Linked DNA regions of Homo sapiens: region 2 is linked to region 1. Evidence: fine-mapped expression QTL. A gene starts in region 1. The other region holds a variant in brackets. All regions are shown on one strand. Distances are from middle to middle. Region 1 holds the start of PES1 (pescadillo ribosomal biogenesis factor 1). Region 2 overlaps SEC14L4 (SEC14 like lipid binding 4).

Evidence for each region. PIP is the estimated chance that this variant, and not a neighbour inherited with it, causes the effect.
Region 2: its variant is fine-mapped to the expression of PES1 in tibial nerve (GTEx, PIP 0.97). The same link has a PIP of 0.9 or more in visceral fat.

What each region holds. Positions count from the first base shown.
Region 1 is chr22:30,589,739-30,594,130 of GRCh38, forward strand. PES1 (pescadillo ribosomal biogenesis factor 1) reads right to left here and starts at 2,172. Exons shown (of 15, transcript NM_014303.4): 1 at 2,072-2,172. The coding sequence starts at 2,095. RefSeq lists enhancers at 2,000-2,715, 2,195-2,494, 2,715-2,794.
Region 2 is chr22:30,491,636-30,496,027 of GRCh38, forward strand. It overlaps SEC14L4 (SEC14 like lipid binding 4), which reads right to left. Exons shown (of 12, transcript NM_174977.4): 3 at 4,293-4,336; 4 at 3,948-4,007; 5 at 3,619-3,807; 6 at 3,231-3,326; 7 at 2,515-2,575; 8 at 839-922; 9 at 414-520; 10 at 199-338; 11 at 1-107. Among named protein-coding and RNA genes, the nearest start is that of SEC14L4, 12 kb to the right of the region's middle. The variant A/G (reference allele first, on the strand shown) is at 2,024.

The sequences.
Region 1 (4,392 bases):
AGTACCTGAATGCCTAATAGCTAAGCCAGTGTTCCTAATCTTTTCCCCTTCTTTTCTTCCTCATTATAACCTCTTCACCACTACCAGGAGACTTATTAGACACCCCCTTCCTCCCTCACCCATCACCCTTTCTTCCCTATGCCCCATAAAATGTTAATACCAGAGATATACTGTAGGTCTGTTTATGTAATGTAGTCCTTGGGGAGCCACAACCATTGTAATAGCTAAGATACTGCCCCTCAACCAATTTTGTTCCCTTGAGGGTGGTATTACCCTGGCTGAAAAAGCATGCTCTAAGCCACACAGCTTCTCCCCTTCCTCATTCATTCATTCAACAGACAATAACAGGTCCTCTATTATGGTCAAAGCACTAAGCTAGATGCTATGAAGGCAATAAAGACAAAAAGCCTGGTCTCTACCTGCCCCTAAGAAGCCTATTGTCTTGTATAACCATCTGGATGCCTGTGGTGCTAAGATGCTGCCTCACACCCACATTTCTGTATCCCTCACACTTCTGTATCCCTCGATAGAGACAATCAGTGCACTGTAACAAATACCCTGCAAGCTAACAAGCATGTCGTTTCCAAACAAGATCTTCCTCTGGACTAAGACAGCAGGGGCCTCTTTGGCTAGGTTCAGCTCTAAAGAGACAAACCTGTTAGTCTCCCACAGGTACGTTTACTAATAACATCATAGTCATGAAACATACCCTTCATTCATTCTTTCCTTTAGACATTAATTGTCTATTAGGTATTAGGCCCATGCTAAGTCTTGGAGGTATAAAGATGAGTTTCAGACTGCCTTAAGAAGTTGAGTTTTCATTTATAGCGTTTTCCATTACCTTATGCCACACTTATCTCTGTCACCATGCTTATCCTTATAAATGTTAAGGGAATAAATAGTTCTCAATGGGGTACTCCCTGGGTATGTGCTGGGGGGAGGAGAGTTCAGCAATGTTTGGAGACATTTTTGGTTGCTGGGTGCTACTGGTATCCAGTAGGTAAAGGATCAGGGATGTTGCCAAATATCCTACTACACACAAGACAATCCTTCCCACAACAAAGACTCATCTTTGTTGATTCTGGCTCTGAAACCCAGCTTTTAAAAACTGTAACGATTTTGTTACATATCTACATCTGCAACTCAAGGGCAGGTTTTCCATCTTGTATCTTTGCAGTTCCGATGGCTAGCACTGGATACTCAATGTAGTGTGTTGGGTTAAGAACACTGGCAATAGAAACTTTCACTCTGAAAGAAACACTTAAGCCAACTATATATTCCTCATTCCCATTCCCTTCCCAGTCTTTTCATGTCACTGGGCCGATTCTCCATACAGCCACAAGAACTCCCTGAAAAACTCTAATCGTGTTACTCCTCCTTTTTTTCCTACTGCACGTAGAATAAAATCCAAGCTCTACACTATTCCTACTGCACTTAGAATAAAATCCAAGCTTACAGGCCTTGCACGATACAGTACGTGTCCAACCCCAATCTTATCAGATGCCATTCTTTTCTTGGTTTACATGCGAGTCATCCTAATGTCCTTCCAACTCCTTACACACAGCAAGCCTTCCCTGCCTACTGATCTTGGCACTTGGTTTCCCTTGTCAGGCCTGCTCGCTAAGCACTCCCATGCCCCAGAACCCATCCAAGACGTTCTGATCTTTCCCATTTCAGCCGAAATGTTATGCCTCGAAGAGAACTTCCAAGACAACACTAACCAACTAATGTAACGGTGCAGTAACGGTGAGCTCTACGTAATGTTTATCACCCTTTCGGTAAATAGTGGTCCCACGGCTCGGCCTGCTTTTGGAATGAAGCTACGCTTGGTAAGTTCAACTCTCTTTCACAGCCCTCTCCACAGAAAGAACTCTGGAGTTCGTTCTCGGATTTCACTAAACGAATACTGCCATCCTTGTCCATTCTCGGACCCCTTCTCGCAGCTGATTACGGTCACGTCGATCCCGTCTTTCCAGTCTCCACGAGACGGAGCCCGGGAAAAGAGTCGACCCCATGCTCTGCCGCCCCCGCACCCCACCCCTCGGGAATCCCCACCGTCTTTCCCAATCACCTTCTTCTTCTCAAGGCCTCCCATCGCTCCACGTTGAGGAGCCGACTAGGGCCGCGCGTACAGGGAGCTCCACTTCCTCCCGCACGTGCCCTGCCAAGGACCCCGAGGACCCTCCCCACCCCACGCTGTCTGTTTGTGCGGGCTGCCCAATGAGATGCCTGTACAAGTCCAGGGAAAGATGGGGATTTCCTCCTCAAGATTTAAAACTATAGTCTGAAAAAAATCACTGAGAACACTCTTTCCAGATCTTTCCCGCTCACAATGGTTACAAACACTTTAAGTGTTAAAACAAACGTGGATATACAGGCTTTTCTGTAATCACCCTGATGACGATTCATTGACTGTGAGCCTCGTTGCATGTTGGGACGGAGAGGGGCGGAAGGCTTAGGGACAGCGCGGTGCCTTCTGGGATGCAGAGGGGCGCCGCACTCCATGGTGCGCGATAGGATTGCGTTGTCAAGGTAACGGTTGCTAAGCGTCGTCAGACTTCGGCTGCCGCTGCTGAGAAGCGGTTCCCGAGGGGCAGGGTGAGACTGCGCTGAGTTCCCACCGGCTTCGGGTTCTCTTTGGTTCATTCGCGGTTATGCGGCTAAAATAGAAAAAAGGAAGACATTTTTCCTCGCGGAGGTATAGAGATCCTAGAGGCCACTTATATTTTCTGAGCCTTAGTGGTGGACTCGTGGTATATTTAAAATGTACATTCAAGGCTGGGAGCGGTGGCGCACGCCTGTAATCCCAGCACTTTGGGAGGCCAAGACAGGCGGATCATCTGAGGTCAGGAGTTCGAGACCAGTGTGACCAATATAGTGAAACCCCGTCTCTGCTAAAAATACAAAAATTAGCTGGCCATGGTGGCACACGCCTGTAATCCCAGCTACTCGGGAGGCTGACGCAGGAGAATCGCTTGAACCTGGGAGGCAGAGGTTGCAGTGAGCCGAGATCTTGCCACTGCACTCCAGCCTGGGCGACAGAGTGAGACTCCATCTCAAAAATAAATAAATAAATAAAATTAAATGTACATTCAACATATTCGAGCTTTTAATTTGTACACATAAATTCTGTAAGTGTTCCTCAAATAATAATTCCAAGATTTATACAAATAGTCACATCACCTTGAGATGGTGCAGTCTGGAAGTAGATGCAATTTTAAGAGGTTTTTTTTTTTTTAAACGTTTCTCCCTTTTTCCAAATTCCAAATTTCGTTCGAAGATGATCTCAAAAGTTTAAATTTGAGGCTCTTGTGAATGTGACCTGGCCCAAGGACTTGGTCTTAGAACTTACACAGAGACAGACGTTAAGCACTGGTGAATACTTGTTTTGAACTATGTGACTTGCACTATCTAATTTAAAGCTAAAATTTAAAACCCAGCAATTCCACAGTTAAAAATGAGATGAAGCCGGGCACGGTCGCTCACACCTGTAATCCCAGCACTTTGAGAGGCTGAGGCAGGCGGATCACCTGAGATCAGGAGTTTGAGACCAGCCTGGCCAACATGGCGAAAACCCATCTCTACCAAAAATACAAAAATTAGCCGGGTGTGGTGGCAGGCACCTGTAACCCCAGCTAGTTGGGAGGCTGAGGCAGGAGAATTTATTGAACCCAGGAGGTAGATGTTGCAGTGAGCCAAGATTGTGCCACTGCACTCTGCACTCAAGCCTAGACGACAGAGCGAGGCTCCATCTCAAAAAAAAAAAGAAGAAGAAGGAAAGGGATGGACTGGAGAGGGTGGCAGTGGCTGGCTCATGAGGGCAACACAGGAACAGGGCTGGTGTCGTGAGCATGTGGCCTGGGCAGTCATCTCACCCTGTCCCTCACAAATCACCTAGCTCGTCCTGCACAGATAGAACCATGTTTGCAGAAAGTTGAGCCTTGTTTTGCTCACATTAATGTTGAGGGGTCACTGGAAGACACAGGTGGGGATGTTCAGGGAAGCAATTGTAATTTCAGCTCAAAATAGCCGTCATATAGGTACCACATTTCACAAGGGAGGAAACTAAGTCTCAGGAAAGTAAGTGATCGCTGAAGATCACTCAGCTGCTAAGCTGTGCAGAATAGATTCTCACCAAGCAGTCTGGTTTCAGAGTCCTCTGCTAAACTCACATTCCACTACCTAACGTATAGTAGAAAGAATGTTATGTGACTCCAGGATAATGCCAGGTAGATTTTTGTTCCATAAAGGGAAGAGGTTTTTAACCATTAGGGCTGCCCACACACAGAATGCTTTGTGCAATACCAAGCCTCCATCAGCATTACGGTGAAAAGCCCAGTCTCTGCAGGGAGACACACCTGGTTTACCTCTAAGCCTCGGACAAGCCACTTT
Region 2 (4,392 bases), 98 kb before region 1:
GGCTGGGCAGCACCTCCGTCATCTCCCTAGCACTCTGCTGCTCCCCCATCTTGGTCTTCAGGAAAACCCCAAAGCCGATGTCCCCACCATCTGAAGCAAACTGCCACCTGCAGTGGATAGAGCCCCATTGGCGACCCCCTGCCTGGGCTCCAGGCCCCTCCCAGATGTGCCCAGGTGTAGAGTGGCTGCCATCCCTACCTGAGCACACAGCCCGGGAACAGGATCTCGTTCTCCACCTGCAGGGAGGAGCCGCGGCCCACGGACCTCGTGTGCTCATACTGCAGCCTCACCTGCTCGCACAGGTAGTAGCTCTTGGGCACCTCACCCCCATAGTTGATCTGTGGGTGAAGGGGGTGTGTGGGCACTAGATCACAGCTTCTCCCCTCCTTCCCCATCCTCTGGGCACCCTGTACCTTGGTCAGGCACTTGGGGTTGCCATCGGGGTCAGTCATGGTCCCCCCAAACTCCACAGGCAGCTGGTCGGGGCTGATGAATTTTGTCAGCTCCTGCTTCCAGTTGTCTGCATGGGAGCAAGAGAGGGACTCCAAAGGGACTCAGGAGACTCAACAGAGGGCAGAGGGGGCTGAGCTTGGTGAGGGAACCTGATATGTCCTGGGCGTGCTCCCCCGGGCACCTACTCCTAAGAGTACCCAAGACCTTTATGTGGCTCCCAGCCCACGGTCTAGGACCCAAGGCATTGCCCGTGCGTGTGGAGGCTCACCAGGGTCAGGCCAGGGGTAGTGCCCGAGTAGAGGACGAGCCAGGGAGAAGCAGGGTCTTTAGCATTGACCTCTGCTTCCCAGGCAGATGGACACAACCAGGGGGCCACGTCGCTCACCTCCCAGAATCACAATCTTCCTGCGTGTCTCCTCACTCATGAACGACTTGACCAAGTTGAAGGCCACGGGGAACAGTTTTGGGGCTGAAACACATGTAAATCTCTTGAGAAGCTGGACCAGAAAGGACGTGGGGATACAGAGCCACAGCCAAGAGCAGGTGCTGGACAGGAGGTGGACAGATATGGATTCTGCCACTCTCTGCTGTGTGACCTTCAGCAAGTTACCCACCCTCTCCAAGTCTTAGTGCAGTTAACTGGAAAATGAAGGTGAAATAATGTATGTATAACACCTGGCACAGTTCCTGGCTTTCAATAAATGGTTGTCTCAGGCCAGGCGCAGTGGCTCATGCCTGAAATCCCAGCACTTTGGGAGGCTGAGGTAGGCAGATCACTTGAAGCCAGCAGTTCAAGACCAGCCTGGCCAACATGGTGAAACTCCGTCTCTACTAAAAATACAAAAATTAGCTGAGCGTAGTGGTGCATGCTTGTAATCCCGGCTACTCGGGTGGCAGCGGCACAAGAATTGCTTGAACCTGGGAGGCAGAGGTTGCAGTGAGCCAAGATCACGCCACTGCACTCCAGCCTGGGTGAGAGAGTGAGATTCCATCTCAAAAAAAAAAAAAAAAAAGAAAAGAAAAAAGAAAAAGAAAAATGGCTGTCTCCCCAACCCAGTTGTAAGGGATTGGGCACAAGCTGGCTCTAGGGTCAGCAATATTGATTCCCCAACAGTATCACTTCTTTTCCACACTCCAGGTTGTCTGGAATCTTCTTGGGTGTGACATCTACATGAGACTTCCTGTCCTGCCCTGAATTGCTCACACTCAACTGAGCACTGTCTGTGGGCCAAGCTCTGTGCTCCATCTTCTCCACACACTGTTTCATTTAACCTCATAGTTATCTTTGAGGAGGGGGCTATTGTATCCCCATCTTACATAATGGGAAAACTGAGGCTCAGTGAGGTTAAGTAGACTTGGATAAAATCATAGAGCTAGTTAGATTTGAACCAGATCCTCTGACTCTGGAACACATGACATCACCAGGGCAGCCAGGGACCATTCCCGCTCAAAGTGTGTCCATCCACTAGTGTGGTCCATGGACTATCTGTTCCCAGCCCACACTGACATAAGTAAGTAACAGTAAACATTTAGAAACTTATAACTTGACATTGCTGAAACATACCAGTGC[A/G]TGATTTTGTATATTACAAAAATATCAGTCTGTGAAGGACTGAAACTAAAAAATAAAGCCAGAGGCCGGGTGCGGTGGCTCACATCTATAATCCCAGCACTGTGGGAGGCCGAAGTGGCTGGATGACTTGAGATCAGGAGTTCAAAACCAGCCTGGCCAACATAGGGAAACCCCATCTCTACTAAAAATACAAAAATTAGCCAGGCATGGTGGCGTGCACCTGTAATCCCAGCTACTAGGAAGGCTGAGGCAGGAGAATTGCTTGAACCCAGGAGGCGGAGGTTGCAGTGAGCCAATATCATGCCACTGCACTCCGGCCTGGGTGACAGAGGGAGACTCCATCTCAATAACTAACTAACCAGAAACCAACCACACAAAACCTGGTTCTTCACAAAGGATGGGTGAAGAAGCCTTTAACTCCATGGCTTACCTACTGTACCCCCAATTCCTGCTTCTCCCTCCCCAGGAGGTCATCCCGGTCATGGGCTTACCTCGAATAACAATTAAATTCTTCAGGGTCTCAGGATAATTTGCTTCCAGGATGCTAAAAAACTGTGGAGTCAAGATGAGTCTGGTTGGGGCTCTGTTCCATCACCTCCCGCCCATGGGTTTCTGTGGCCTCTGATGCTGCTGAGACAAGAGGCCCATCCCTGGCCCATCCTACCTTCCCCACAAGCATGTGCCTCTTCCTCTCTGTTATTCTTTTTTTGTTTGTTGATTTGTTCTCGAGACAGGGTCTCACTCTGTCTCCCAAGGTGGAGTATAGTGGCACAATCACAGGTCACTGCGACCTTGAATTCCTGGGTTCAAGAGATCCTCCCGCCTCAGCCACCCAAGTATCTAGGACTACAGGCACGTGCCACTGCACTGGGCTAATGTAAAAATTATTATTATTGTTGGTAGAGATGACATCTCACTGTGTTGCTCAGGCTGATCCTGAACTCCTGCTCAAGGAATCTTCCCACCTTGGCTTCCCAAAGTGCTGGGATGACAGGCGTGAGCCACCACGCCTGGCCTCTTTGTGTTAATCTTGCTCCCCTTTCTCCGTGGAGGGTGGTCTCTAGGCCAGCATCATTGGCTGGTCTGTGGAGCCCCTGCAAGGCATCCCCACCCCTCTATCTCACTGGATTCTCACATCAATTCACAGCTAGGGCTCACAGCTGGGAGCCACTGCCCACACCAGCCCCAAGCCAGCCACCCACCTTACCTGCTGGTAGACCTCCACAGCTGGCTTCCACAGGTGTTTCAGGCTCAGCCCCTCCATGTCAAACACCATCAGCGCCATCTCGATCTTCCTGCCCAGCTGCTTGGGACAGAGTCATATAGGTCAGACGACAGCTCCAGCCAGGAGATCCTGGCCAGAGAGACTTGGGCACCTCTCCCCACCTTCCTGCCATCCCACCCTCTGGCAGCCCACAGCGTTTTCCAGACAGATGGACAACACCTCACTTTTACGGGTGGGTAAGGGTGGGAGAAGCCCACATTCCACCAGAGCCCTGGGTGCTGAGGGCTGGGGAGGGGCAGGGTGCCACCCTTCTCTGGTCCTGGTGCCACCCTGTAGACAGATGAGGCCCAGCCCCACCCCCGCTGCTCACCTTCTGAGTTTGCAGCTCACACTCATGCAACAGCAGCTCACAGACTTTGATGCGCTTCCGGATCATATCCTGCTTGGAGGCTGACAGCAGGAGACCCTTGGGGTCGAGGGACCCAATGATGTTGAAGTACACAGGGCAGCCTTCGTAGTCGTAGCCACAAAGACCACCCGAGTCATACAGCTGGATGACCTGGAAGTGTGGGTAAGGTCCCGACTCAATCCAGCTCACCAGGCTGGGTCCCTACTCCATCAGGTGGCTGGACGTGGTAGGTGGGAGATGTCAGGGGTGAGGGGCCTCAGATGGCCTGGGGGATGCTGCTCGAGGCTCACCTCAGGGGGCTGCCATGTGACAATGTTGTCCAGGTCTTGTTGCTTCCGGAACTCCATGTGCTGCAGGAACACAGCAGGAGCTATAGGATTTTGCAGGAACCTGGGGACACCAGGCTAGGTCCCTCTGCCCACAGCCACCAAGATCCCACCACAGCATACCCAGGCTCTCAGAGCGTGGGGACAGGAGGTGGGCTGGGGGGACTTGGGTCTGATGCAGAAAGAGATCGGGGGAGGAAGAAAGAAGAAACAGGAGAATGGGACAGGGCCAGAGTCTCTACCCTTTTGCAGCAAATCCCTGGGTCACAGTGCATGGAAGGCAGGGCAGTAGGGATCACAGATCCTTACCCTTCGGAGCATGTCTTCGGATTTCTGCAGGTCAAAGTTTCGAGCTGCAAGAAGAGGAGGTAAATAGAAGCTCAAGGCTAGATCCAGAAAGAGCCCTTCC